Linked DNA regions of Homo sapiens: all the other regions are linked to region 1. The links come from fine-mapping of genetic effects on gene expression. A gene starts in region 1. Each other region holds a variant in brackets. All regions are shown on one strand. Distances are from middle to middle.

Region 1 (10,218 bases):
AAAAGAGGACACAGTATGGAAAGGAAATGCCAGGAGTGGAAACATACTTGGTAATATAGAAGTTACCCCATCATACTAGGGTGACCACTCATCCTAGTTTGCCTGGACTAAGGAGTTTCTTGGGACATGGAACTTTTGGTGCTAAAACAGGGACAGACCTGTGCAAACTAGAACAAGTTAGTCACCCTACAACTGTACAGCTACTACTACTAATCCCACTTCAATACACAGCTTTATTCAGCTTGCTAAGGACAGAATCAAGACCAGACCGTCATCAACAATGCCTTACCAAAGTTCTTTTTTCGGCCAGGTGCAGTGAGTGGGTCATGCCTGCAATCCCAGCACTTTGGGAGGCTGAGGCAGGTGGATCACTTGAGGTCAGGAATTCGAGACCAGCCTGGTCAACATGGCGAAACCCTGCCTCTACTGAAAAATACAAAAATGAGCCAGGCATGGTGGCACATGTCTGTAATCCCAGCTACTCAGGAGGCTGAGGCATGAGAATCACTTAAACCCGGGAGGTAGAGGTTGCAGTGAGCTGAGATTGCGCCACAGCACTCCAGCCTGGGCAACAGAGCAATATTCTGTCTCAAAAAAAAAAAAAGTTGTTTTAATTTTCATTTCTTTAATATGAGTAAGCATAAGTATCTTTCCTTTTCCTATGTTTAAAAGCAATATTTTCTATTCCTTTTCTCTGAACTATCTGTTCATACCTTTTACCTACCTGTTTAAAAAAATTTTTAAATAGTTTTTGTACATATTTATGGGGTACATGTGCAATTTTGTTACATGCATAGAATGTGTAATGATAAAGTCAGGGTATTTAGGTTATCTATCACCCAAGTATTTATCATTTCTATGTGTTGGGTACATTTCAGGTCTTCTAGCTGTTTTGAAGAACACAATACATTTTTGTTAAATAGCAGTAAACACATCCAGTTAAACATAGTGGATTGATGATGCGTATTTATTTTTTTCTCCCTCGAACCCCATCTATATGGCAATAAGGAATAAAAAATGTATTAACCCAGAACATGAATAGGAATGAAAAGGAGACATTAGTGGCCCAGGGATTTCAGCAAGTTTTTAGAAAACAGGGACAGAAGGGGAAGTAGTAACTGACTTAACAGGGGGAGGAAGTTATGACCCAAATGTCTGCAGGGAATATTGATTTGATGACTAAAAGGTGAGCCCAGATTCTTCCATAGAAGAGATAGACACTAAAAATAAAGATATGGATGGAAATCTCCCACAGAGTAGAACAAAAGAGCCAAAAAGAGGGACAATAAGAGAAAAACAGAGAAAATTAGAAACTCAGTTTGGAAAGTATAACTTCTGACTAAGAGAAATTCCAGAAAGAGAAAAAAATGGAGGGGAGAGCCAAGTCTGGTGTCTCATTCCTGTAGTCCCAACAGTTTGGGAGGCCGAGGCAGGGGGATTGCTTGAGCCCAGGAGTTTGAGACCAGCTGGGCAACACAGTGAGACCCCATTTCTACAAAAAATAGAAAAATTACTCAGGCATGGTGGTATGCACCTGTAGTCCTAGCTACTCGGGAGGCTGAGGTGGCAGGATCACTTGAAGCTGCAGTGAGCCATGATCATGCCACTGCATTCCAGCCTGTGCAACATAGCACAACACTGTTTCAGGGGAAAAAAAAATAGGAGGGGAGAAAATTATCGAAAAAATAATACAAGAAAATTTCCTAGATTAGAGGGATATAAGTCTCCAGATTGAAAAGGCCCAGCTAACACAAGTGAGGAAAAGCCTCACTGAGGGGAGTCATCATCAAATACAACATTATGGATAAAGATGATAGCCTAAAAGTTTTCAAAGATTAAAAATAAAAAAAGAACAAGACACATATAAAGCAACAGGATTAAGAATGGCATTAGATGTCTTAAATCTGGATACTAGAAACAATAATGCAATGTTTTAAAAATTCTGAGAGAAATAATTTTCAGCCTAGATTTCTTTTTTTTTTTTTTTTTTGAAATGGAGGCTCCCTCTGTCGCTCAGGCTGGAGTGCAGTGGTGCAATCTTGGCTTACTGCAACCTCTGCCTCCTGGGTTCAAGTGATTATCCTGCCTCAGCCTCCCCGAGTAGCTGGGACTACAGGCATGTGCCACCATGCCCAGCTAATGTTTTTTTTGTATTTTTAGTAGAGACAAGGTTTCAGCATGTTGGCCAGGCTGGTCTCAAACACTTGACCTCAGGTGATCTGCCTGCCTCGACCTCCCAAAGTGCTGGGATTACAGGCATAAGACATGGCGCCTGGCCTTCAGCCTAGATTTCTATACCCTGCTAAACTATTAATCAAGTGTGAAAACAGTATAAATGCATATTTAGACATACAAGGACTAAATATATTTGCTTCTTTGCAACCTTTCTCAGGAATCTACAGAAAGATGTGCTGCACAGAGATGACAGAGTAAATCCACAATCTAGAAGTTTGAGACACAAGGTCCAGGGCACAGGGAATCCCAACCAGGTGTAGGATATAGGAAAGTTCAGTATGACAGCTGTGCAGTAGGCCTGGAGAGCACTGGTCCAGATCAGAGCTGAAGCCTTCAGGAGAAAAAAACAAAAGAGAACTCATGAACTTTTTTTTTTTTTTTAAGTTGTTGTTGTTTTTGTGAGATGGAGTTTTGCTCTTGTCACCCAAGCTAGAGTGCAATAGGGTTATTTCGGGTCACTGCAACCTCCACCTCCTAGGTTCAAGCAATTCTCCTGCCTCAGCCTCCAAAGTAGTGGGGATTACAGGTGCCTGCCACCACTCCTGGCTGATTTTTGTATTTTTAGTAGAGACGTGGTTTCTCCATGTTGGCCAGGCTGGTCTTGAACTCCTGACCTCAGGGTGATCTGCCTGCCTCAGCCTCCCAAGGTGCTGGGATTATGGGCATGAGCCACCATGCCTAGCCGAATTGTTATGTTACACATCTGGAAAAATCACTGCTGATTATTTTGTCTAATTTATTAACCACATAGGAAAAAATTAACAATATCTGCAAAGAAAGCTAATGAAAGGGGGGAAAAAATGAGGCAATTATTAGCTTCAGGAAATACCAAAAGAGGCTGGGTGCAGTCTCTTTTGGTATTTCCTTTATTATTTTATTTAAAAATAAACTTCTTCACTGTAGAGAAAGTGTAAATCAAATTATGTGGGAGTTTTAATGGGCCAGGCCTGAGAATAGCACACATCACATTTAATTGGCCAGAACTTGGTCTGAACTGTAAGGAAGGCTGGGAAATACTGTCTAGTTGTGTGTCCAGGAGCAGGAAGAAATAACGTTTTTGAGAGGAAGTAGCAATATCTGCCACAACAGGCAAAAAGTAGTTGTAGGCAGATGAAGAAGACCATCTCAGGTATTCATTTATTCAAGGAGCAAAACATATTTGTTCAGCAACTACTATTGACTAAGCTTGGTTCCAGGCATGGTGGATACAAGAGTGAACAAATAAAAGACTGCTCTTATGCAGTTTCTATTTAGTGGGGAACAGCAGGTGTAAGTTCCATGGGGGTTGGAACCTGCCCTTCTAGGCCAGTGTGGTTGGAATAGAGTTTTAACGAATTTTGCAGGAAGTAATAAGGACTTCATATTTGATTCTAAGAGCAATGAGACTCCATTAAATCGAGTATTAATCAGAAAGTGGCATGATCTGTTTTATTTATTTATTTATTTATTTATTTATTTTAATCTTTATATCTGAGACGGAGTTTCGCTGTTGTCGCCCAGGCTGGAGTGCAGTGGTGCCATCTCTCTCACTGCAACCCCTGCCTCCCGGGTTCAAGCGATTCTCCTGCCTCAGCCTCCCGAGTAGCTGGGACTACAGGCATGCGCCACCACGCCCGGCTAATTTTTTGTATTTTTATTAGAGACGGGGTTTCGCCATGTTGGCCAAGCTGGTCTCGAACTCCTGACCTCAGGTGATTCACCTGCCTCAGCCTCCCAAAGTGCTGGGATTACAGCGGGAGCCACCGCACCTGGCCGCATGATCTGTTTTAAATAATTACTCTGGCCACCTTATGGAAAATGGATTGTTCGGACAGAGCTGGACAAAAGAATGGAAACAGACCAGATATTTCAGGCAGGCTAGAGATGAGCGTGGCCTGGCCTTGCCTGGGGCGGTTGTGACTGACTGGATTGGGTGAAGGACAGGAAAGCTACAACAAGGGTGCCTATAGGTGTTCGTATTGAGTCACTGGGGGCACCCTAAATGGGAGTTACCTCAGTAGCAGTTTGAGACACCAGTCAGATAATGGATGTGAAAGCTTTTAGAAAGGTTGAACGGCGGCTGAAATCGCGTGTGTTCCATTTACAGATGGGAAACTGAGGCACGAGATACCAGAGGATGGAGTCAGGCCACGTTGTGCGCCACTCTCCCCGCTTAGGTGGGTGAGGAGACCGAGGTGTGTTGGGCCCCCGCTAAACACCAGCACCGACCTGAGCCCCGCCCAGACCCCTCCAGCCGGCTTTCCCTGTCCTCTGCTCGTGTGCCAATAAAGTTATTGAAATTGACACCGGTTGCTAAGGAAGTGGGTCGCCGAGCCAGGTTGCTAAGGAAGTGAGCGGCCACTGTCTCTCCCCATCCGGGGCAGCGGGGAATGGCTGAGCCAGGGGTTCGCCGCCCCCGCCGCCGCCGCCGCCGCCGCCGCCGCCGCCGCCGCCCGCTTTCGGCTCGGGCCTCAGGTGAGTCGGAGGGGCCGGGCGCCCACCGAGCAGGGCTAATCCTGTGGCCGCCTGGGGTTTTCCCTGCGACCTGCGCCCGCGCCTCTGCCTGGCTTTGCTGTCCCGCGAGCCGGAGCATCCTCTGCCCTGCCTCCTAGGCATCCTTTGGTAGTCCGGACGGCCTTGCCCCTCCTTCCCCTGGCAGGGTCGCGGCCCGACCCCCAGACACGGCCACCTTGGGTCGCAGCCCACCTGGGGGCCCTGAGGCGGTGGTCAGGGCCCCAGTTTGGGAGGAGGGCGGGGAAGCGAGAGCCTGGGGTCCGAACCTCGGCGCTGTGCTGGGCTTGCTGTGTGACCTTGGGCAAGTCTTTTCACCTCCCTGGCCTTAGCTGACCTGTTTATTCAATGGGGTCCTAACATTGCTGCTCAGAGTGGTAAAGATAATGAGAAGTGTATGTGAAAGTGCCCTAAATGGGGAGAGGGAGAATTCTTAGGGCACCCTAGATGGGAGACCAAGAGGGCAGTTTGAAGTCTGAGCGAGTTAGAGACGTGGCATTTCCACTTAGTAACTGTGTGGCCCTGGGCAAGTTAATTTCTCTGAGTCTTCTTTTCCTTATCTGTGAAATGAGGTAATAGACTACTGTGGAAATCAGTGAGACTGGGTATGTCAAGTAGCTTGGCACATAGTAAGTGCTCAACCAGCTATTATGAGGCGTCCAGGGTAGGAGGGCAAGACTTCCAGGAGGAGATGACTTTGGGACAGGTAAGGTGTAGGTGTGTAGAGTGCCAGCTCATATGGGTAGTCCTACTGCAATGCCAACCCCCAACCCCGGTTTTACTTCTCCATTCTGCTCAGAGCAAGGGAGGTACTTCTACAAGTAGTCCTGGGAAACTCTTTGAGGTCAACCCCTTGTAGATAGCTGGGGTCATGGTCTCATTTTCTACCTGGGCTTCGTTGACCCTTCCAGAAGAAAAAAGGCATCTTTGTGTCCTTTGGGAAGTGCTTAAAGCAGTAATAACTATTTACAAGCATATGATTAAGAAGCACTTTACCAGGCATATTATTTCATTTAATCTTTATGTAGACTTTGCCAGGTGCCTGGTGATGTCATCCTCATTTTGCCGATGAGGAAACTGAGGTTCAGAAAAGTAAAGGGAAGGACCTGCTTAAGAATCCTTTTTTTTTTTTTTTTTTTTGAGACAGAGTCTTAGTCTGTTGCCCAGGCTGGAGTGCAGTGGCGCGATCTCAGCTCACTGCAACCTCCGCCTCGTGTGTTCAAGCGATTCTCCTGCCTCAGCCTCCCGAGTAGCTGGGACTACAGATGTTCACCACCTCGTCCACTAATTTTTGTAGTTTTAGTAGAGACAAGGTTTCACCATGTTGGCCTGGCTGGTCTCGAACTCCTGGCCTCAAGTGATATACCTGCCTCGGCCTCCCAAAGTGCTAGGATTACATGCGTGAGCCACCACACCCAGTCATTGCCTAAGAATCTTGTATCTATTAAGTGATGGAAGTGGACGTGTTTCTAGGTAAATCCTGTATTTTATCCCCCATTCACTGTTGCCTCTGATTTTGCAACAGTTGCTATTATAAGGCCACAGGGGTATTCTTTTGTTACTTTTAACTGGCTAGAAGTTAAAAGGCAAGGAAACAAGATCTCAGGTAAAGCTTTATTTAAATAGATACCACCCAAAGTGAGGATCTCAGAAAATAGTTGGAATCTTTTTTTTTTTTTTTGAGACGGAGTTTTGCTGTTGTTGCCCAGGCTGGAGTGCAATGGTGCCATCTCAGCTCACTGCAACCTCCGCCTCCCTGGTTCAAGCAGTTCTCCTGCCTCAGCCTCCCAAGTAGCTGGGATTACAGGCATGTGCCACCATGCCCGGCTAATTTTGTATTTTTAGTAGAGATGGGGTTTCTCCATGTTGGTCAGGCTGGTCTCAAACTCCCGACCTCAGGTGATCGCCTGCCTTGGCCTCCCAAAGGACTGGGATTACAGGCATGAGCCACTGTGCCCAGCCTGAGAGCTGGAATCTTTAAAAGAGGGCTTCTCTGTCCCTCATTCCCTCCTCATTAAAATGAGGGGACTAGGCTAGATTATACTGAAGGCCCTTTCAGTGCTGTTATGCAGTTGTGGTTAAAAGCTTGCAATCAGACTACCTGGACTAAAATCTTGGCTCTGCCACTTCCAAGCTGTGTGCTACTGAGCAAAGAGGTGCTACTTTACCTCTGAAATGATGCTCAGTACCTCTGAAATGATGAGAGGACTTTTTGGTAAGGGGCTCTGTGAGGAAGAATTATTCATAGTTCATTTTGAACCCCTTGGTGGTATAGTTTCCTCATCTGTAAAATGGGGATAGTAATAGGCCTTATTACCTGTGGCCTTATTATCATGTATGGCTGTTCTGAGGATTTATTTGAACTTAATATATGTGAAGTGCCCAGCATATTTGGTAAACATTAGCTATCGTTATTTGGGTTTAACGTGGTGCTTGTGCTGTATTTTCCGTGTATGGTTGGTGAAAGAATAAATTAAAGTATGTGATAATACCAGGTCCGTCAACCATAATGTCATTGCAAGCATGAAACAGTAGCCATCATGGCATTATATAAATGTTGATATTTTTATACAGTTGGCCCCAGGAACCTGTAATCATGTGCCACAATGGGTTGCAAAGAAAGGTAAAGCTGTCCAGGCATGGTGGCTCACGGCTGTAATCCCAGCACTTTGGGAGGCCAAGACGGGTGGATCACGAGGTCAGGAGATCGAGACCATCCTGGCTAGCACAGTGAAACCCCATCTCTACTAAAAGAAAAAAAAAATTAGCTGGGCATGGTGGCGGGCGCCTGTAGTCCCAGCTACTCGGGAGGCTGAGGCAGGAGAATGGCGTGAACCGGGGAGGTGGAACTTGCAGTGAGCCAAGATTGCGCCACTGCACTCCAGCCTGGGCGACAGAGCAAGACTCCGTCTCAAAAAAAAAAAAAAAAAAAAAAAAAAGAAAGAAAGATGAAAGCTGATGGTAGGACGTTAGGTTTAGTAGCTCAACATCCAATTCAGTAAATATTTGCTAAATCCCCTTATGCTAGGCACATGGAGGATGTGGAGGTCAATCCCATCTCCATATCCTTCGAGGAACTCAGAGCTTAATTTGCAAATTACTGCATTTGACATCTTTAAATGAATTCATATCTTATGTTTGCCTTGGCTGCAGAGTGAAGCCACTGATTCTAATCTGTTTTGTTGTGTCCCTAGACTTCTGTTAGGTGCCTGGATTAGAAACCTCAGATTGCTTCCTAAGCCTTTTCATCCATTAATTCGCAAGTCCCTGAGAAAGACCCCGTCTTATGTAACAGAGAGTAGCAATACTTGACAATAACAATAAGGTGCCTAATGGCTTACAAAAATGCCTACACTTGCTTACACATGCTTTTACTCATTTAATCTTATCTGTGTCCCTTCAAGGAAGGTAAGGTGCAGATTAGGATCTCTGTTTTATAGTCGAGGAATCTGAATGGAAGCCAAGAAGCCATGATGCTATTGAGTGGCCCATTTCACGTTGAAATCCAGTCTTCTGTCTTCAAATTCAGTGTACTTACCACTATCCTGCCCGGATTGTATTTATTCAGTATTTCCTGAGCACCTAGAATGTGTCAGTTCTGTTTTAGCCTGGAGATATCATGGTAGAAAGGTACAGAGTCCCTTGCTCTCATGCAGCTTATATTCTACTGGCAGCAAACAGAAAAATACAGCAGTAAATGAACAAGGGAATTTGGATGAGGAATAAGTGCTGGGGTGAAATCCCATCTCTATTAAAAATACAAAACTTAGCTGGGTGTGGTGGCACGTGCCTGTAGTCCCAGCTATTCAGGAGGCTGAGGCACAAGAATTGCTTGAACCTGGGAAGCAGAGGCTGCAGTAAGCCGAGGTTGCGCCATTGCACTCCAGCCTGGGCAACAGAGCGAGACTCCATCTCAAAAAGAAAAAAAACCCAACAAACAAAAAGAAAAAGAAAAGGCCTTGCTAGGATGGTGACGTTTTTGCTGAGATTTGCTCCCAGGGACGGGCCAGCCATTTGAAGACATGTCAGAAGGAAGAGCAAGGGTAAAGGCTGTGAGGTGGCAACAAGCTTGGTAAGTTCCAGAAACTGCAAGAAGGCTTACAATGGCAGGGACAGGTGAGTCAAAGGCAGAGTGGGGAGGTGGGTGGATGTAGGGGATGGAAGTGGTAGGGAGCGCTCAGATCATACAGGACCTTGTCTGCTAGAGTAATGAGTTGGGATTTTGTTCTAAAAGCTGTGGAAATCATTGGAGGTTCTGGAGAAGGGACGTGGCATGATCTATTTTTGTTTTTTAAAAAAATCACTCTGGCCTCTTTGTGGCAGTGAATTTTAGAGGGCATAGGAGTGGCAGCCAGGAGGCTAGTTAAGAGGTTAGGTGAGAGAAGATAGTGGCTTTCTAGGTTGGTGGCAGTGGAGATGGTAAGAGGACGGATTGGGGATGTGTTTCGGAGGTAGAACCAGCAGGATGGCGGGATGAGGGTGAGAGAATAAGGATGACTCCTGGGTTTTTGGCCTGAGCAATTAAGTAGATGTTAGAGATGCCATCTGCCTCTGAAATGATGAAAGGACTTTTTGGTAAGGGGCCCTATGAGGAAGAATTATTCATAGTTTATTTTGAACCCTGTAGAGGAGAGGCACAAGGTATAAGCATCATACTTTATAGTCTGTGGGGAGGAAATCCCAGATTATGCTGGCAGAAGCTAGCCAGGTGCAACTGATTGAAGCTTGACGTTCTTACTGTGAACCAAAAAAAAAAGTCCTGCTTTTCTACAGTCTGGCTTTTTGCCAGCCTGTGGAGCGGCAGGTGTGGGCTTTGCCAGGGCAGTACCCATCTGTCTTTCTGTCTTGTGCTGTTGGCATTGCAGTGCTGACTCGGGATCTTGGCTGAGGGAGCCTGGCCAGCTCTGGAAGAGGGAGCGGAATCACTAGTGAAGTTCACTTGGTGTGCCAAATGGCCACATTCTCCCTGCCAAAGTGGTTCTTTCCTGGTCACCAAATGACAGTTCTGAAGTTTCAGAGCTTTTGACTTCAGAATCCCTGGAAAACCTATTGTACTCTACCAGAATTCCTAGAGGATTCTTGAATCTCTTCTGAGCAAGGGAATTCGAGCTTCATTGTTATGTATTCCAGTAACTGTACTTGTAAATCTGGGCATTACAGGGTTGTACATTCAACATTGTGAATAGTAAAACTAATAGTCTTATCACTGCCACTTGTTTATTTAATTAAATTTAATAAATTTATTCATTTTGGAGACAGGGACTCCCTCTGTCACCCAGGTTGGAATGCAGTGGTGTGATCATGGCTCCCCCACAGCCTTGAACTCCTGGGCTCAAGTGATCCTTCTACCTCAGTCTCTTGAGTGGCTGGGACCGCAGGCATGTACTGTCGTGCCTGGCTAATTTAAAAAAAAATGTTTTGGGGACGGGTGTGGTGGCTTATGCCTGTAATCCCAGCACTTTGGGAGGCTGAGGTGTGCAGATCACGAGGTCA
Region 2 (10,218 bases), 110 kb after region 1:
TCAAATGCCATATTGATTCCTGATCTTTTGTGTATGACCTCTCTCTCTCTTTTTTTTTTTTTTTTGCTACCTCTCCCCGAAAGTTTTTAGGATCTTTTTTTCCACGATTATGTACCTTGATGTGGGTCTTTTCTCGCCCTTTGTGCTATTAGGTCTAGCAACTCATGTGTCTCAGGTCTGGGAAATGATTTTACAGTTTTTCCAGCTGGTGCGTAACTAGCTGTTTGTTCTGATACTGTCAGTATTTAACTTTATGTTAGAAACATTTCATAATGCAAATGAAAAATTTAAGCCAGGTGCAGTGGCTCATGCACTTTGTGAGGCTGAGGTGGGAGGAACACTTGAGGTCAGGAGTTCAAAACCAGCCTGGCCAACATGGTGAAACCCCTTCTACTAAAAAAACAAAAAAACAAAAATTAACTGGGCATGGTTGTGCACCCCCATAATCCCAGTTACTCAGGAGGCTGAGGTACGAGAATCACTGGAACTGGGAGACAGGTTTCAGTGAGCCGAGACTGAGACAGAGCAAGACCCTGTCTCAAAATATAAATAAAATACATAAAAAATTTAATATTATGTATATAATATCCAGCCCAGGCTTTTCTATTTGTCATGCCCTGTTTCTTTCACATCATAGCCTTACTCAGATGCCTGCTGATCCTTGATTGAGGTGTGATGCTTGAGAGTCAGGCTCTTAAATACTACTGGCGAATTCAGTGCATTGTGGTTTTGTGACTTCACTTGTCTCTTACAGAAGTGGGGAAGTGGTTTTTACTTCGATGCATGGTTCTGAAGTAGAGATGTCTATCTCCTGATGCACACTTTAAATAATCCCCATGTTTTCCACTCCATACTCCATCCTTGTCTGGTTTAAGCTCTTAGCCTGTCTGCAGTTCAGGGGATGAATCTGCTTGGTTCTTTTCAGCATCTCCCTCTGCAACGCTTAGATCTCATCTTCCTTTGCTTTGCTAACTATTCTCTTTGCTTCTCCATTTGTTTCTCTGTCATTGATGACTTCCAAGTTATATCCCCATCCTGGATATTCCTTTTGAACGTCAGACTCATATATTCAGTTACCTCCTCAGTATCTCTATTCGGATATCTAATGGCATCTCAAAATTAACATGTGCAAAACCAACCTGTTCCACCCTTGTGTTGGCTGTATAAATTAGTGGGAACTCCATTTTTTAAGTTGCTTAAATCAGAAACCTGGGAGTCATCAATTTTGGAGTCTGTCCCTTTGCTCTTGTGGCACATGTAATCACGAATAAATCCTGTTGGCTCTATCTTCAGAATATATCTCATTTTATCACTCTCTCTGCCACCAGAGTGGTTTAAGCCACCTTCATCTCTTAGGTTATTTTAGTAGCTTCCTAACTGGTCTCCTTCCTTCCATTCTTGCCACCTTCCTCAACACCGAAGATATATTTTATTTATTTATTTATTTATTTTGAGACAGAGTCTTGCTCTGTCACCCCAGCTGGAATGCGGTGGCTTGATCTTGGCTCACTGCAACCTCTGTCTTCCAGGCTTAAGCAATTCTCCTGCCTCAGCCTCCCGAGTAGCTGGGGCTGCAGGCATGCACCACCATGCCTGGCTAATTTTTGTATTTTTTAGTAGAGATGGAGTTTCACCATGTTGGCCAGGCTGGTCTCGAACTCCTGACCTCAGGTCATCTGCCCGCCTCAGCCTCCCAAAGTGTTGGGATTACAGGCGTCAGCCACCATGCTTGGCCAAATTTTTTATTCCTTTGGGTAAAGAGATGTATTTTATTTCCTTTAATTTGGTAATATAGTGAGTTATGTTAATAGATTCTTTTTTTCCAGTGCTCAAGCATCCTTGCATTCCTAGGATAAATGGTACTTCAACATGATTTTCCTTTTAAATATACATTGCTGGATTTAGGTTATAAATTATTGAGAATTTTTGCATCTGTATTTACAAGTGTTACATTCTAATTTCAGGCCTTTTCCAGTTTTATTATCAAAACAAGCTGTGCTGTTTTTCCTCTCTTGATTCTCAGTAGTAGTCTCTTTAAGATAGTGATTATTCATTCTTTTTGGTAGATCATGCCTATAAGACCTGGGCATGTATGTTTTTATTGTGGGAATATATTGTTTTTACTTTCCTTGTTATGAAATATATAATTTATTTTAAAATATGTATATACAGAGTTTGTGTTCCTTTAAAGAATAATAGCTAAAAATAAATTGCACGCCCCCACATCCAACCATCGTCAAACAAAACATCTTTTACACTCTATTTTATTTATTTATTTTCCCCCACCCCTCTAGAGTATACACCCTTTTGGAGCCTCTGAGCATTTTCCTTTCCCTCACTGCTTTAGAAACCTCTATTCAGATTTTTCATATTAATGATTCTTTTGCTTTTAACCCACATGTGTTACTGAAGTTTAAGTCCTAAATAATAATTTTTCCTGCTTTAAAATATATTTTTATGTCAATGAAATCATACTGGTGGATGTATTTTCTCTGATTTGCTGCTTTTGCCTCTCATTTCTGAGCTTGATCTATGTTGGTGCATTTATAGAAATACTTCATATTTTCTGCTGTGTATCATCTTATGCTATCAACGTGCCATATGATTTACCTGTTCTTAGCATGTATTTGGGTTGTTTCTGGTTCTTGCTGTAACAAACAGCTGCATTTAGTGCTTGTGTATGTGTCTCCTGATGCATGTGTGCATTCACTTCTCTGGGGTGTATATGTTGCTGGGAATGGGACTGAGTATTGTGAGTGTATAATAGTATCTTGTTTTTGTTTTTTTTCCCTCTCAGTTTATGGCATAATTTACGTACAGTAAAATTTACCACCGCCCCCCTGCCCCGCCTTTTTCTTTTTCTGAAACAGAGTCTCGCTCTGTTGTCCAGGCTGGAGTGCAGTGGCACAATCTCGGCTCACTGCAACCTTTACTTACTGGGTTCAAGCGATTCTCCTGCCTCAGCCTCACAAGTAGTTGGGATTACAGGTGCCTGCCAGGCTAATTTTGTAGAGACAGGGTTTCACCATGTTGGCCAGGCTGGTCTCAAACTCCTTACCTCAGGTGATCCACCCACCTTGGCCTCCCCAAGTGTTGGGATTAGAGGTATGAGCCACCACGCCCAGCCAAATTCACCCTTTTTAGTGTACAAGTATACAGCTTTGTGAGAGTTTGATTTCTTTAGTTCAAATTTGTTTTAAAGTTATATTTGGTATTTTAACAGTGCTATTTAAATATATGCCATATATGGCTTGAATGCAATTATCCTAGTACAGATGGTCCTTGACTTATGATGTTTTTGTGTCCCTGTAAGCCCACCTTAAGTTGAAAATATTAAGTTGAAAATGCATTTAATATGACTAACCTGCTGTAAATCCTAACTTAGCCTACCTTAAATGCACTTAGAACACTTAAATTAGTTTACAGTGGGCAAATCATCAAACACAAAGCCTATTTGTAATAAAGTGTTGAATATCTTATATAATTTATTGAATACTAAAGTGAAAAACAATAGTTGTATGAGTAGTCAGAGTATGGCTTCTCTTCAATGCATATCACTTTCATATACCATCGTAAACTCAAAAAATCATAAGTCAGGGTATGCTGTATATTTTATTGGTGCTAACATACTTCCATTTTAAAATACAGGAAATTCACCTTTTTTTGTGTATAGTCTTGTAAGTTTTGACAGATCTATATACAGATATGTAATCCCCACCCATGATTCTTTTTTAATTTAAAAAAATATATTTTTGAGACAGTCTCACTGTCACCCAGGCTGGAATGCAGTGGCATGATCGTAGCTCACTGCAGCCTCAAACTCCTGGCCTTAAGTGCTCCTCCTGCCTCAGCCTCCCAAAGTGCTAGGATTACAGGAATGAGCCAGTGTGCCCTGCCACCACCATAATTAAGATCCAGAACAGTTTCATCATCCCAGAAACTTTCCCTGTATCCTTTTGTAGTCAGCTTCTTTTTTCACCCCCAGCTCCTGGTGACCACTGATTTGTTCTCTGTCCTTGCAGTACTGTCTTTTCCAGAATGCCATATAAATTGAATCCTACATTATATAACACTTTGAGTCTGGCGTCTTTTACTTAGTGTGAAGTATTTGAGATTTATTTGTCTTGTGATGTGTATTAGCAATTTATTTCTTTTTTCTTTTTTTTCTTTTTGGAGACAAGGTCTTGCTCTGTCACCCAGGCTGAAGTGCAGCGGCACGATCATAGTTCACTGCAGGCTTAAACTCAAGCAATCCTCCCACTTCAGCCTCCTGAGTAGCTGGGACTGCAGGCGCACACCACCATGTTCAGCTAATTTTTTTTTTTTCTTGGTAGAGACAGGATCTCACTCTGTTGCCCAGGCTGATTTCAAACTCCTGGCCTCAAGGAATCCTCCCACCTATGCCTCTCAAAGTGCTGGGATTACAGGTGTGAACCATTACAGTTGGCTAGCAGTTTATTTCTGTATATTGCAGGATAGTATCTCATTGTATAGATGTACCACATTTTGCGTATTCATTCTTCAGTTGATAGACATTTGGACTACTTCCTCCTTTTGGCTGCTGTGAGTAATGCTGCTGTGAATAAATATTTGTGTGTAAGTTTCTATGTGGACATACAGTTTCATTATTCTTGGGTAGATAAACCTTGGAGTAATTGCTGGGTTGGGTGGTAATTTCTGTTTAACTTTTAAAGAAATAGCTAAGCTGTTTTCCAAAGTGGCTTCACCATCTTAAATTCAAGTTTTTGTTTTCGTTGTATTTGAGGCAGAGCTTTACTCTCTTGCCCAGGCTGGAGTGCAATGGCAAGATTATATTATAGCTCACTGCAGCCTCGATCTTCCAGGCTCAAGCGATCCTCTCACCTCAGCCTCCCAGGTAGCTGAGAGTACAGGTGTGTGTCACCATGCCTGGCTAAGTTTTGATTTTTAGTAGAGATAAGGTCTGGCTATGTTTCCCAGGCTGGTCTTGAACTTCTGAGCTCAAGCAGTCCTCCTGCCTTGGCCTCCCAAAGTGCTGGGATTGCAGGTGTGAGCCACCAAGCCCAGCCAAGGTTTTTGTGTTTTAGTAAAATTTCTGCTCTTCCTGGCAATACTTTTTTCTGAAATTTACTTTGATATTGATA[T/C]AGTCACTCCAGTTCTTTTCAGTGCTTAGTTTTTGCATGGTATATTTTTTCCATCCTTTTGTGTTATACTGTCTGTTTCATTATATTTGTAGTTGGACCTTGATTTTTTTTTTTTCCCTAATTCTTTTACTTGGGATGCTTGGACCTAATGTGTGTCTAGTTTTTCCTAATGTGTCTTTTACTTGGGATGCTTGGACCATGTGTATTTAATTATTGATATGGTTGGGTTAAGTCCACCATCTAGCTATTTGTTATTTATTTATTTTTAGAGCCAAGGTCTTGCTGTGCCACCCAGGCTGGGGTGCTAGTGGCATGATCATGGCTCACTGAAGCCTCTAACTTCTGGGCTCAAGCAGTCATCTCACTGCAGTCTCCCGAGAAGCTGGGATTACAGGCGTGTGCCACCAAGCCTAGCTGATTTTTTTTTTTTTTTTCCGAGATGGAGATTTGCTCTTGTTGCCCACTCTGGAGTGCAGTGGCGCAATCTTGGCTCACCGCAGCCTCTGCCTCCTGGGTTCAAGCAATTCTCCTGCCTCAGTCTCCCGAGTAGCTGAGATTACAGGTGCCTGCCACCATGCCCAGCTAATTCTGTATTTTTAGTAGAGATGGGGTTTCACTATGTTGGCCAGGCTGATCTTGAACTCTTGACCTCGTGATCTGCCCGCCTCGGCCTCCCAAAGTGTTGGAAGGCCGAGGCGGGCAGATCACGCCTGTGCTGGGAGGCTGAGGCGGGTAGCCACTGCTCCCAGCCCTGAAATCTTTCCTCTTTTCTAAGATAGACATTTAATGCACACACACATTTTGATATGCTATGTTTTAATTTTCATTCAGCTTAAAATATCTAATTTTTCTTTTGATTTATTCTTTAACTTACTGATTATTTAGAAGTGTGATATTATATTTTGGGAATAAAAATCCAGAGATCTTACTGTTACTGATTTTTGATTTAATTCCATTGTGGTAAGAGAACATACCTTATATGATTTGAATCCTTTTAAATTGATTGAGACTTGTTTTATGGATCAGAATAAGGTGTCTTGATAAAGGTTCCACGGGCACTTGAAAAGAATGTGTATTCTACTGTTGTTAGGTAGAGCATTCTATTAATGTTGATTGGCTTGTTGATTGATAATGTTCAAGTCTTCTGTATTCTTACCGATTTCCTATTCTATCAGTTATAGACAGAGGGTGTTAAAATCTCAATTCTGTTTTGCTTGTTGATTGATAATGTTTAAGTCTTCTGTATTCTTACCGATTTTCTGTTCTATCAATTATAGAGAGAGGTGTTAAAATCTCAATTCTGTTTGTTTTTGGTTTGAAATTTACTTATAAGGTACATAAGCATTTATGATTGTCGTCATCTTGATGAATTGGTCTCTGTCATTTTGAAATGACAGAACTTACTTTGTCTCATAATATAGCTACTCGTGCTTTTCATTTGATTAGTGTTTGGCATATATTTTTATATTTTAAAAAAACTTATCACCTGTGTCTTTATGTTTAAAGTGGTTTTTTTTCCCAGGCATCATGTGTTTGGGATCTTGCTTTTATCCAGTTTGATAGTGTTTGCCTTTTAATTGGAGTTTGTAGACTATTTATGTTTAATGTGATTACTGATTTTTTTTTGAGATGGAGTCTCGCCCTGTCGCCCAGGCTGCAGTGCAGTGGCACGATCTCAGCTCACTCCAACCTCCGTTTCCCGGGTTCAAGTCATTCTCTTGCCTCAGCCTCCCAAGTAGCTGGGACTGCAGGCACCTGACACCACACCCGGCTAATTTTTGTATTTTTAGTAGAGATGGGGTTTCACCATATTGGCCAGGCTGGTCTCAAACTGCTGACTTTGTGATCCGCCCACCTCAGCCTCCCAAAGTGCTGGGATTACAGGTGTGAGCCACTGCGGCTGGATGTTTACTGATTTTTATAGAGTTTAAACAACCATCTTTTCTATTTGTCTGATGTGGTGTTTTTTTCGTTTTTGTTTTTTTAAGATGGACTGTCACTCTGTCGTCTAGGCTGGAGTGCAGTGGTGCAATCTCAACTCACTGTAACCTTTGCCTCCTGGGTTCAAGCAGTTTTCCTGTCTCAGCCTCCCAAGTAGCTGGGATTACAGGTGCGTGCCACCACACCTGGCTATTTTTTTTTTTTTTTTTTTGGTTTGAGACAGAGTCTCGCACTGTCACCTGGGCTGGAGTGCAGTGGCGCGATCTCGGCTCACTGCAATCTCCGCCTCCTGGGTTCAAGCGATACTCCTGCCTCAGCCTCCCAAGTAGCTGGTATTACAGGCGCCCATCACCACACCCAGCTAATGTTTTGTATTTTTAGTAGAGACAGGGTTTCACTATATTGGCCAGGCTGGTCTCAAATTCCTGACCTTGTGATCTGCCCGCCTTGGCCTCCCAAAGTGCTGGGATTACAGGCGTGAGCCACCGTGCCTGGCCTAATTTTTGTATTTTTAGTAGAGATGGGCTTTTGCCATGTTGGCCAAGCAGGTCTCGAATTCCTGACCTCAAGTGATCCCTGCCCTTGGCCTCCCAAAGTGCTGGCATTACAGGAGTGAGCTACGCCATGCCTGGCCTGGATTGAGGATTTTTTAGTGGTTCATTTTTAAGTCCTTTCTTGGCTCATTAGTACTTTGTTATTTTAGTGGCTGCTTTAGTGTTTATTGAGTTCAGCTTGTGAAACTCAGTCTTTAATATTATACCACTTCACCTATATTACAAGAACCTTATAGCAGTACACTTCATTTTCCCTTCAGACTTTGTGCTATGTTTGTCATACACTTCACTTTTACATATGTTGTAAACTCCACAATACATTATTATTTTTCATTTAAGTAGTCAATTTTTTTAAAACAATTTTTTTTTTTTTGAGACGGAGTCTCACTCGGTTGCCCAGGCTACAGTGCAGTGGTGCAATCTTGGCTTACTGCAGCCTCTGCCTCCTGGGTTCAAGTGATTCTTATGCCTCAGCCTCCTGAGTAGCTGGGATTACAGGTGCGCCCCATCATGCCTGGCTGATTTTTGTATTATTAGTAGAGATGGGGTTTTGCCACGTTGGCCCAGCAGGTCTCGAACTCCTGAGCTCCAGTGATCCGCCTGTCTTGGCCTCCCAAAGTGCTGGGATTACAGGCATGAGCCACCATGCCTGGCCTAAAAAGATTTTAAAAGTAAGAAAAAATGTCTTTTACTTTATATGTTTTCCATTTCTGGTGTTCTTTATTGCCTATGAGCGGTTCCAGATTCTCATCTGCCAGATTTTCTTCAGTTTTTTCTCGTCAGTTCAGATTTTCTTTCTGCCAGAGGACTTCCTTTAATGTGTTTCTTGTAGTGTAGGTCTGCTGGTGATATCTTTAAGCTTTGGTGTGTTTGAAAAAGTACTTCCTCTTGTTTTTAGAAAGATATATTCCTTTGATACAGAATTCTAGGTTGACAGGTTTTTTTCATTGTGTACTTTAAAGATGTTGCTCCACTGTCTCTAGCTTGCATTATTTCTCCTGTAAAATCTGTTGTTATTTTAATCTTTGTTCTTCAGCGAGCAAATTTATCTTTTTTGCCTTTTTTGGTTAATTTTTAAGATTTTCTTTTTATCACTGCTTTTTCAGCAATGTGTTTATTATATACTTTGTTGTAGTTTGCGTCATATTTCTTGTGTTTGAATTCTCTTGAGCTTCATGGATGAAATTTACGTATTCAGCTACTATTTCTTGAAATATTTTTCTTTTGTACTTCCCCACCGCATCTGGAGTCTGTAATTACATGTATATTTGGCTGCTTGAAGTAGTCATACAACTCACTGATGCACTGTTATGTTTTTTAGTCATTTGATTCTCTTTGTTTTGGGTAGTTTCTACTGATCTTCATTTCACTAGTCTTTATCTTTCCCATGTTAAATCTGTTACTCTTATCCAGAATTATACCTTTTATCCTTAAAAATTCAGTTTTTTTCTTTTTTTTGAGACGGAGTCTCATTCTGTCACCCAGGCTGAAGTGCAGTGGCATGATCTTGGCTCGCTGCAACCTCCGCTTCCCAGGTTCAAGCGATTATCCTGCCTCAGCCTCCCAAGTAGCTGTGATTACAGGCATGCATCACCATGTCTGGCTAGTTTTTGTATTTTTAGTAGAGACAGAGCTTCACCATGTTTGCCAGGCTGGTCTCAAACCCCTGACTTCAGGTGATCCACCTGCCTCAGCCTCCTAGAGTGCTGGGATTACAGGAATGAGCGACCACACCTGGTTTGTTTCTTAAAAAACATCTTATATTTCTCTGCTTAACGTGCTCAATGTTGAACATGTGAAATATAATAACTTTTCATAATCTCTTCTGATTCTGTCTCTATATCATCTTTGGGTCTGTTTTTATGTATTCTATTTTTCTTGTCATTATGGGTCAGATTTCCCAGTTCTTTGCAATCCTAATAAATTCTGTTTAGATGAAAGACATTGTGAATTTCACTTTGGGTTGTGGATATTTTTGTATTCATGTTGGTATTTTTGAGATTTGTTCTGGAGTGCAGATGAGTTAGCTGGAAACTAATTCTTTTGAGGCTTGCTTTTTAGCTTTGTTAGGTGGGGCGTATCCTTTCTGTGTTTATTTTTGTAAGGGTATACAGATATACATGTTTTCTTATTTCCCTCTTTATTTATTCTTATTTAATCTGTAACAATCTTTTTCCTTATATTCGTAACATTCTTAGTTAGGGAGTAATTACCTCTTCCCTAACTGTTGCATTAGCTTCTTAATTGGCACTCTGGTTCCCAGACTTTTTCTGTCTCTAATGCAGTGTACAGACTACTGTCAGAATAATTCTAAAGCACAATTCTGATATTGTCACTGTATTGCTTTTCAGTGCCTACAGCAGTAGGATTCACTTAAAAAATTATTCCCCTAATAGTAATATAAAAAATTTTTTTGAGCTCAAACTCTCATTCTCTCTCAGTATACATATTTGTTTATACATGAGGTCACATACTGCTTACTAAGTTAGCATTTTTTATGTGTTCATTTTGAAATAACTCTGAACAGTGGTATCCAATCTTTTGGCTTCCCTGGGCCACATTAGAAGAAGAATTGTCTTGGGCCACACATAAAATACACT
Region 3 (10,218 bases), 220 kb after region 1:
GCTGTAGTCGATTACTGCAACCCACTGGACACCAGGCACCTGTGCTGGGCAGTGTGTATGTGTTATCTTATTTAATCCACCAAATAACAAGGTTGATATTCATTTGCCATTGTGCACATGAAGACTAGGGGCTTCTGGGAGAAGATTAAGTGACTCACCCAGTCACCCAAGAGTGGAGAAACTGGCACTCAGAGAGCAGGTGACACGTCCACAATCATGGAGCTAGAAGCTGCTGGCTGTGCTGGACCAAGATGTGTGGGTCTCCAGGGTGTGTGGTGGGCCCTGCTAAGGTGAGACCACTGAGCCAGGCCACGTGGTGCTGCGCTTCACCGACCTCCAGCAGAGCAGGAGGAATCCACCAGTGCGAGTCAGATGCAGCCAGAGATTTCCCTTGGGCCAAGACCTGGGAATGGGCTAGGACTGCTGTGAGGCCCTGCCTTGGGATGGACCCCAGGGCTTCTCCATACAAGCCTTGGAAGGAGGCTGGCCTTGGAAGCCTGAAGGGATGAAACTCTAGCTGGCTCTCCGGCAGGTGAGGAGAGGTAAGGACCCTCCACAGGCTGTGGGGGTGTGAGACTAACTTACGTTCACTCGGTCCAAGGAAGCCATGCAGGGAAACGGGCAGGTTACCAAGAGAAAGAGGCAGGCAGCACCTTCTGCCTAGGCCTGCAGTCCCTTCATGACAGAGCCCACAGCTCCGGTGTGGATGATGGCCCAAGGCTCTGGGGCCCGGGATGCTGCATGGGGACCTTTCTGGGGCTGAATCTAGTGTGTGGGGTCATGTCCAGGTGTGGAGGGGAGTGGGCAGCTGCGGACACGCTCTGTTTGCACTCAGGCCCTTGCTCGGTGTGACCTCAGGCAGGTGACTTGACTCTCCAAGCCTTGGTTTCCTCATCTCTAAAATGAGGAAACAACAGCAGGGACTTGTTTTTGAAGGTTGCAGTGAGGCCTAAATGCAGCGATAGCTGAAGAGGCCTGGACTGGTGCTGGGCACAGAGCACCGCCCGAACCATAGTTATGGATAGTGATGGTACTACGAAAACTAAGTAATAACTCAGTCATCAGTCCACACGCATTTATTGAGCCCCTACTATGCTCCAAGGCCCGGTCCAGGTGCAGGGACTGCAGTGGTGAGATAAGCACACCTGGGTCTGTCCATGTGGAGCCGATGGTGCTGGTGCTGCTGCGGCCTCAGCTTGTCCCTACCCTGACTGTTGCTTTCTTTTTCCTTTCTCTTTCCCCACCCCTTCCCTTGAGAAATAACAGCATTAAGATTGGAGAGACTAGGGCTCTCTTTCTTACTAATTCTGTGACTTCAGACAAATTACTGGCTAGGCGCAGTGGCTCATGCCTATAATCCCAGCACTTTGGGAGGCCAAGGCAGGTGGATCACCTGAGGTCAGGAGTTCAAGACCAGTCTGACCAACATGGTGAAACCTGGTCTCTACTAAAAATACAAAAATTAGCTGGGTGTGGTGGCACATGCCTGTAATCCTAGCTACTTGGGAGGCTGAGACAGGAGAATCATTTGAACCCAGGAGGTGGAGCTTGCAGTGAGCTGAGATCATGCCACTGCACTCCAGCCTGGGCCACAGAGTGAGATAATCTCGGGAAAAAAAAAAAAAAAAAAAAAAAAAAAAACACACAACACACACACACACACAAACAAATTACTTAAGCTCTCTAAAGCCGAGCCTCAGTTTCCCTGTGTGCTGAGGAACTGAGTTCTGTGTCTGGGGGTACCCAGCACACAGAAGGCCCCCAACAATTGCTGTTCCTGCTCCCCTGCCTACCTCCCTCTCCTCTCTTCTTCCTCCCCACTTTCCCCGTTTCCTTTCTTTTCCATTCTTTTTCTCTGCCCAAGCCTTCGGCATCTTAACACCCAAAGTGATTGTCAAAGTTTAGTTGATGGTGCCCAGGCTGTGGCAGAGACTGTGAACCAGTTTTCTTGATATTATGCCCTGAATCAACATTCTCCCTTATCTTTTTCAACCACAGAGGGTAGAAACATGAAATTCTTTCTTTCCCAGCCTCCCTTACAACTGGGAACCACGTGACCCTTTTGCAGCAATGAGACATCAACACAATGCCTCGAATGTGGACAAGGTTGGAGCAATAGCAGGCAACTTGCAACCATGAGGAAAAGCCTCAATAACATCACAGAGACACCAACCCAACATTGCAAATGGCACCAGCGGCGGCTCCTCCATTCTTCTTGTTTTAGGAGTAAAATAACTTCATGTTTTGCTATAGTCAACTGGGTTTGGGGGCCTGTAGTCAAAAGCATTCCTGGCTTATTCACATGGCTCCTGTCCGCGGGTGGACTAGATGGCAAGGATCCCCCACTCCCATGTGGCCTTTTCTCTTTCAAGAGGACACAGGAGCCTCTTGACTCTTTGAAGAGGACACAGGGGTGCTACGCTACGTCCAGGCACCTGCTGTGCGTACTGTGGTGCCTGGGGAGCAGACAAGCATTTAGTTCCCTCACTTGTGGACTCTGAAGGAGGGAAAACTGTCACGGCTGCAGCACAAGTGTGCCTGGGCACTTCCTCAGCCACAGGAGTATCCCAGTTAAAGAACATCTTCTGTTTCTATCTTATCTCTTGAGGTATTTAGAGCCATTCTAAATGCCAGAGCCTTAGAATGACCATGGGGCTGGCAGGGCATGGGCTCTGTGACTCATATCTGTCGAGGAGGCTGCTTGTGGTTGTGCTGGATCGAGCCCCTCTCCTTGACTATCTTCGGCACCGCAAGCCAAAGCTCAGGGCTGCCCGGGCCTATTCCTGAGGTGGTGCAGGAGAGGCAGATGGGCTGCTGGGGACGAAAGGGGTAGGTAGGCGGGCTCTGGGCTCCGTGCCCAGCATTGCCAGCAACATGCCTGTCTGCTGCTGACCCCTGACCCACTCAACTTCCTCCCCAGAAGACAGTCCCTTGAAGAAAGGGGTTCCTCCATCAAAATGTAAAATTTGAAAGCCACAGATGTCTGACCCAAACCTGCTGATCTAGTAACAGGGAAGCTGCAGCATGAAGAAGTTAGATGGCTGGGGCGCAGTGGCTCACGTCCCAGCACTTTGGGGAGGCTGAGGTGGGGGAATGCTTAAGCCCAGGAGTTCAAGACCAGCCTGGGCAACATGGCGAGACCCCATCCCTACAAAAAATACAAACATTAGCTGGGCGCGGTGTTGAGCACCTGTGGTCCCAGCTACTCAGGAGGCTGAGGTGGGAGAATTGCTTGAGCTCAGGAGGTCAAGGCTGCAGTGAGCTGTGATCATATCACTGCACCCCAATAAAAGAAGTTAGATGACTCGTGGGGCAGAGGCACACCTAGAACCAGAGTCGCTGGACTCCCTCTCAGGTGCTCATCTCCACTTTCGACCTGAGACAGGCCCAGGTCCCTGCCCTGCTTCCCTCTGGCAGAGAAAGATCACCACTAGGCTTCACATCACAACACATGTGCACCCGGCTGGCAGGCCCTGGGAGAGCTGCCTTTGAAGACGGCTCCCAGGCATAGCTCCCCCTTACTCCTCTATCTGAGCCCCACTGCTGTTCCTACCCCAGGGTCTTTGCATGTGCTGTCTCCTGTGCCTGGAAAGCCCTCCCACTTCATCTCTGCAGGGCTGGCCACTTCTCACCATTCAGGCCTTGGCTCGGATGCTGCCTCTTCAGAGAGGCCTTCTTGCCCTGAGGCACAGTCTGTCATCTTACTCTATTTTAATTATCTACCCCAAATTTCCTCCTTTTGCATATTTTTTTATATTGCCTTGTTTATCATCTCCAGGCCTGTGAGCTCCTAGGGATGGGTACCTTATCTGTCTCATTCACTGTGGTATCTTCCGTGCTTGGAATGACCTCCAGCATGTAGTAGGAACCTCGGAAATGATTTTTGAGTGAAGGAAGGAAGAAATTTCTTTCTTTCTTTTTTTTTTTTGAGAGAGTTTCACTCTTGTTGCCCAAGCTGGAGTACAGTGGCATGATCTCAGCTCACTGCAACCTCTGCCTCCCAGGTTCAAGTGATTCTTCTGCCTCAGCCTCCCGAGTAGCTGGAACTACAGGTGCCTGCCACCACAGCTGGCTAATTTTTTGTATTTTTAGTAGAGACAGGGTTTCATCATGTTGGCCGGGCTGGTCTCGAACTGACCTCAGGTGATCCACCCGCCTCAGCCTCCCAAAAAGTGCTGGGATTACAGGCATGAACCACCACACCTGGCCTAGGAAATTTCTTTAAAACTACATAATGCTGTGTTGCAGGGAGGACAAGGGTCTGGTCGGCCGTGAGCAGCAGCTGTGCTGTGTGCCTCTCAGTCTGAATAGGGGTCGGGGAGCTACCCGCCTGCCGGGATCCACACCCAGTCACCCCGAGCAAAACAAAGCAGACAGCACAAATTCACAAAGCAATACTGTGCCCTCCTACCCTCAAAAAAAAAAAAAAAAAAAAAGCCCGATAATGAGGTAAACACAATCATGACCAGGAAAAAGCTTGGCCATGCTTCTTCCAGTCCACCCAAAGCCATTATCTCTAATTGATCTCCAGACATCAGCTGCTGAAGCGTCTGAAACCCTCCTGCACCCTCCAGGTCTGGTTACAAAGCCCTGGCCCACCCACCCGCCCCATGGAGTCAGGTCTCCTGGAGCTGCTCTTTGCTGGGGGTGACAGGGCCTATCTGGGCCCCACATGAAAAGGACCCATCAGGCTGACAAGAGTCAGGGTGGGTCAAGAACCTGTGTAAAAGTCACAACCACTAAATGCTCAGCTGCCAGGGGGCTGAGCTGCCTGAGTTTCAGTGCCTTAAGTAGAAGGCTTGACAAAGCCATCAGGGGTCCCGCATTCAAAATAAAAAGCAAGGAAAACCAGGGACGGCTGCAGAAAAGCACCCTGCCCAAAATATCCCACTAGTTCTGGGTGAAAGAGGCACCCAAAAGCTGGAGTGAGGAGTTTAGTTGCAAAACGGAACGGGACTTAGCCACAAGATCACGAATCCCTTCTGGGTCTTGGTTAGGCTGTGGCGGTCACAAGGGCAGCCATCAGTACAGGGACCATCTGGATGTT[T/G]TGAGCTGCTCCTTCCTGGCCCAGCCCAGGAAAGACGTCTCCTTTCCTGTTAGGTCTCTCTTGTCCTTAGAAACAGACCGGAGTCAGCTCCCTGGGCTGCCTGGCAGGGGTGTTTTACTGCCAGAGCTCTGACAGGACAGAGCCACTTCCCCCCTTCATTCATGGACGCCCAGGTAGCAGCTCCTGACCTGTGCAAGCTTTTCCCTTGACACACACAAAGCGTCCCGAGGCCAGCCCTGCATGCAGTATTGCTGCTTATGGCACCAGGCAGCTCTCCTGCTTGCACCAGTAAATTACGAGTGCTTCCTGCATTTTTTCCCCCAGATAATAAAGTTGAAAGGCCACCTTGGCATTCTCGCATTTGTAGGGGTGGAGGTCTGCAGCCCGGAAGGGGCTCGAGCCTCAAGGAGCTGCTGGGGACAATGAGCTGTTCAGGTTCGGGGTATCTGCCAACCCCACCAGACACTGGCTCTCCAGACAGGGTGGTGGCTGTTTTCCACTTTCCCACACAGCTTCAGGGAAGTGAGAGGAAAGAAAAGACACAGACCTCTCCCAGCTCAGGTTGCCCTCACAAAACAGAGGAAATGCTCATTTTCTGTGAGAATTTGGAAATTGTAGTAAGTTTCTAGAAAGCACCCCAGGATGTTCAAGAACATATACTGATTGCAAAAATAATGTCCCATAACAAAAGATGTTTGACAATGAGCTTTTCACGCCTCTCTCTGTTCTCTTAAAAAAAAAAAAAGCTTTCTGATAAATCATTCCCTCTCAAGTTTAGAAATGCCCTATTTTCACAGGGCATGGTGGCTCATGCCTGTCATTCCAGCACTTTAGGAGGCCAAAGTGGGAGGATCGCTTGAGCCCAGGAGTTCAAGACCAGCCTGGGCAACACGTGAAGCCCCATCTCTATAAAAAGTGCAAAAAATTAGCCAGGTGTGGTGGTGTGTGCCTGTAGTTCCAGCTACTCGGGAGGCTGAGGTGGGAGGATCACTAGAGCCTGGGAAGTCGAGGCTGCATTGAGCTGTGATTGCACCACTGCACTCTACCCTGGGCAACGGGAGTGAGACCCTGTCTCAATAAAAAAAAAAAAAAAAAAAAAGAAATGCACTATTTTCTTTGGGAGGCCCAGAAGTTCAAGATCAGCCTGGGCAACAAAGTGAAGCACTGTTTCTACTTAAAAAATTTTTGTGTTTGTTTGTTTTTGAGGCAGAGTCTTGGTCTTGCTCTGTTGCCTAGGCTGGAGTGCAGTGGTGCAATCTCAGCTCACTGCAACCTCTGCTTCCCAGGTTCAAGTGATTCTCCTGCCTCAACCTCCTGAGTACCTGGGATTACAGGCTCCTGCCACCACGCCAGCTAATTTTTGTATTTTTAGTAGAGACGGGGCTTCACCATGTTGGTCAGGCTGGTCTCAAACTCCTGGCCTTGTGATCTGCCCACCTTGGCCTCCCAAAGTGCTGGGATTACAGGCGTGAGCCACTGCTCCTGGCCAAAAAAAATTTTTTTTTAAATAAATGCCCTATTTTGCATGATACCATTTTAGGAGGATGGGGAATGCTGTGCTGTCCATGTTTAGAGCCCCCCGATCCTGACACTGGGCTCATGGTGCTCCTGGTTCTCAGTCCACCTCTGTTTGTCAGTGAACAAAGAGGCCTGGGATAAAGTGTCTTCACATAATGCTCATGTGGTCAGATCAGTGGTGCTGCTGCAGTATTTTTCCTCCACCAAAAAGCGGATACAAACATTTTTAGGCATTAAAGAAACAATTTTTGGCTGGGTGTGGTGGCTCATGCCTGTAATCCCAGCACTTTGGGAGGCTGAGGCAGGCAGATCACTTGAGGCCAGGAGTTTCAGACCAGCTTGGCCAACATGGTGAAACCCCATCTCTACTAAAAATGCAAAAATTAGCCGGGCATGGTGGCAGGCATCTGTAGTCCCAGCTACTCAGTCAGCTGAGGCAGGAGAATTGCTTGAACCTGGGCAGCGGAGGTTGTAGTGAGCCAAGATTTTGCGACTGCACTCTAGCCTGGGCAACAGAGGGAGACCTTGTCTCAAAAAAAAAAAAAAAAAAAAAAGGAACAATTATTTTTTTCAAAGTAATGCCTTTTTTCAAGCCAGCAAAACTTTTAAAAAGAAAGCCAACAAAAGAGGAACAATTCCTACTAGATATTAAAACATATGATAAAGTTTTCACACTTAAAACAGTTTGGTAGCTGCTACATGAATAGTCAAGGAGCCCAGTGGACCAAACAGAAGTAGATTCTGTTTTGGATGGAAACTTAGTAAGTTTTAAAGGTGTCATCTCAAATCAGTGGGGGAAAATGGAGTATTTAACAAATGATGCTGAGACAAAAGGGTTAAGCGGAATCTGTATCTCAGAATACGTCAGCATAAGCTCCAAATGGATCAAAGATTAAATATAAAAAATGAAAATAAAAACATGTATGCTTTTTGCTCTGTCAGCTGGAAGAGCCTGCAAGAAAGGATACTTCAGTACCAATGGGCACACATAGTGCCCAGATCTTGTTTTTTTGTTTTGTTTTATACAAAATATATAGAGATGAGGTTTGCCCAGGCTGGTCTTGAACTCCTGAACTCAAGAGACCCTTCTGCCTTGGCCTCCCAAAGTGTTGGGATAATGGGTGTAAGCCACCATGCCCAGCCAGATTTTTTTTTTTTTTTTTTTGAGACGGAGTCTTGCTTTCTTGCCCAGGCTGGAGTGCAGTGGCACAATCTCGGCTCATTGCAAGCTCCGCCTCCCGGGTTCATGCCATTCTTCTGCCTCAGCCTCCCAAGTAGCTGGGAGTACAGGCGCCTGCCACCACGCCCAGCTAATTTTTTTGTATTTCTTTCTTTTTTTTTTTTTTTTTTACTAGAGACATGGTTTCATCGTGTTAGCCAGGATGGTCTCGATCCGATATTTTGGTTTTTAATATGGTTTTCCAATAAAAGGAATCAGAGCTCCTTGGAGAAATCACTGATTCCAGGATTGGGGCAGGAAATATGCAAGATGAGCCTGGAGTCTTACAGTGCCAGAAAGCAAAGAAGCACTAAAAAACAAGAAACGAACAAACAAAAACCCCAAACACCAATGAGGTATGGCAAAAGAGCACAGGAAACAACTGAAAAAGCTCCAATGGCCAAAGCTAGAACAATTTGTACAACAAAATGAAGAAGTATTGAATGATCATCAAAGCATAAAATAAACAGCTATGAGTCTCGACTTCTATAAATGGCTGAATAAATTAATAAGTGGGGGAGGAGAAACAAATCTCCTATGCATAAGCAATCTAAATAATTTACGTTGATAATTCACCCTAAAAAAGGCAGAACATGACTCCCCACTCTTCAGGTGTGGGCTGCACACGGTGCCTTCCTTCCCAAGTGCACAGTGTGGAAAGAGGGAAAAGTCACTTGACAGGAGAGAAACCTGACAACCAATATCTCAACCAGGTGTGATCAAGGCCAATGGCAACAGTCCTAAATCATGTTGATATTATGGACCCTTAACAGGATGTGATGAAAATGACACTCCATGTCTGTGGTCTTCCTCCTAATAACCCATAACCCCGGTTTTATATAGAGAAAAATGTCAAATTTCTAAATCCTACAAAATACACAACTAGTACTCTTCGAAACTGTCAAGGTTATCAAAAACAAGGAAAGTCTGAGAAACTGTCAAAGCCCAAAGAAGACTAAAGGGACATGACAATTAAATGGAATTAAATGTTACAATGAAAATTAAATGTTGTATCCTGGATGAAATCTTGGAACAGAAAAGGAAATTAGGTAAAAGCTAAAGGAATCTAAATAAACTGTAGACTTTACTTACAATAATGTATCAGTGTGGTTCATTAGTGGTAACAAATGTATCACCTTAATATAAGACATTGATAATACGGGAAACTGTGTGTCGAGGAGTGGGCAATGTGGATACTCTGTACTATCTTCCCAATTTTTCTGTAAAGTTAAAACTGTTCTCAAAAATAGTCTATCAAAAAAAAAATGAAAACATAAAAATACTAAAAGAAAACATGGGGGATGGAGTGGAGTTAGCCTTTTTAAGACTCAAATGCAGAAGCGATTTGAAGAAAAAATTGATACATCTGAGTACATAAAAATAAAAATGACAACACACACAGCATAGGCAATATCAAAAGAGAGAGAGCTACGGATGGGGAAAAGGAGGCAATGACTAACTCTGGGGAATCCGAAGAAAGGAAATGTAAGGAAATGTAATCATAGCATATGTTAATTGGGTCAGCTATGAGTAATATGCACACAGTCATAATAATATAAACAATGAATAGCAATTTATCTAAATAGAGAGGTATAGATATGTTGCAGGATGGAGGAAGGAGAAATAATAAGTGTATTTATGAGAGGGTGTAAGAGTGCAAATACTTATTTCCTACAGCAAGAAATTAACAACAACAAAAGCCCCAATTGAAAAATCAAGAACTTATAGTATAAGCAGGTTATTCCAAAATAGGAGTTAAATACCAGAAGAGACAGCTAAAACATAAGAAAGAAAAGAGGCTGTCCCTAGGGAGTAGAAATTGAAGTGGGGAGGCTGGGGCAGGGTCTGCTATTTTTCTATATGATTTTAAAAAATGTATTCTAGAGGCCGGGTGTGGTGGCTCATGCCTGTAATCCCAGCACTTTGGGAGGCCGAGGCAGGCGGATCACCTGAGGTCAGGAGTTCAAGATCAGCCTGGCCAACAGGGTGAAACCCCGTCTCTACTGAAAGTACAAAAATTAGCTGGGTTTGGTGGCAGGCGCCTGTAATTCCAGTTACTCAGGAGGCTGAGGCAAGAGAAATGCCTGAATCCGGGAGGCGGAGGCTGCAGTGAGGATCACGCCACTACACTCCAGCCTAGGTGACGGTGAGACTCCATCTCAAAAAAAAAAAGTATTCTATCTATAAAAATAAAAATAATGCAGGCCGGGTGTGGTGGCTCACCCCTGTAATCCCAGCACTTTGGGAAGCCGAGGCGGGTGGATCACCTGAGGTCAGGAGTTCGAGACCAGCCTGGCCAACATGGTGAAACCCCGTCTCTACTAAAAATACAAAAATTAGCCGGGAGTGGTGGCCGGGGCCTGTAATCCCAGCTACTCGGGAGGCTGAGGCAGGAGAATCTCTTGAACTTGAGAGCAGAGGTTGCAACGAGCCG

Direction of the effects. Alleles are on the strand shown, and positions count from the first base shown. SD is a standard deviation of normalised expression in the study named. Not every link is listed here.
For the expression in putamen of the gene that starts at base 4,575 in region 1, G is the low allele of the variant in region 3 and T is the other (large effect, 1.0 SD a copy in GTEx).

What was found. PIP is the estimated chance that this variant, and not a neighbour inherited with it, causes the effect.
Region 2: its variant is the best candidate, but not a certain one, in a credible set for the expression of KIF3B in whole blood (INTERVAL, PIP 0.55).
Region 3: its variant is the best candidate, but not a certain one, in a credible set for the expression of KIF3B in putamen (GTEx, PIP 0.68).

The regions. Positions count from the first base shown.
Region 1 is chr20:32,273,077-32,283,294 of GRCh38, forward strand. It overlaps KIF3B (kinesin family member 3B), which reads left to right and starts at 4,575. Exons shown (of 9, transcript NM_004798.4): 1 at 4,575-4,689. LOC124904885 (a long non-coding RNA gene) reads right to left here and starts at 4,467. Exons shown (of 2, transcript XR_007067561.1): 1 at 4,228-4,467; 2 at 2,343-2,566. RefSeq lists enhancers at 4,331-4,380, 4,427-4,937 and silencers at 4,591-4,750, 4,771-4,950.
Region 2 is chr20:32,386,741-32,396,958 of GRCh38, forward strand. All of the region lies in intron 4 of ASXL1 (ASXL transcriptional regulator 1), which reads left to right. Among named protein-coding and RNA genes, the nearest start is that of ASXL1, 34 kb to the left of the region's middle. The variant T/C (reference allele first, on the strand shown) is at 5,124.
Region 3 is chr20:32,492,642-32,502,859 of GRCh38, forward strand. The region is part of intron 4 of NOL4L (nucleolar protein 4 like); the gene reads right to left. Among named protein-coding and RNA genes, the nearest start is that of NOL4L-AS1, 63 kb to the right of the region's middle. RefSeq lists an enhancer at 4,304-4,820. The variant T/G (reference allele first, on the strand shown) is at 5,048.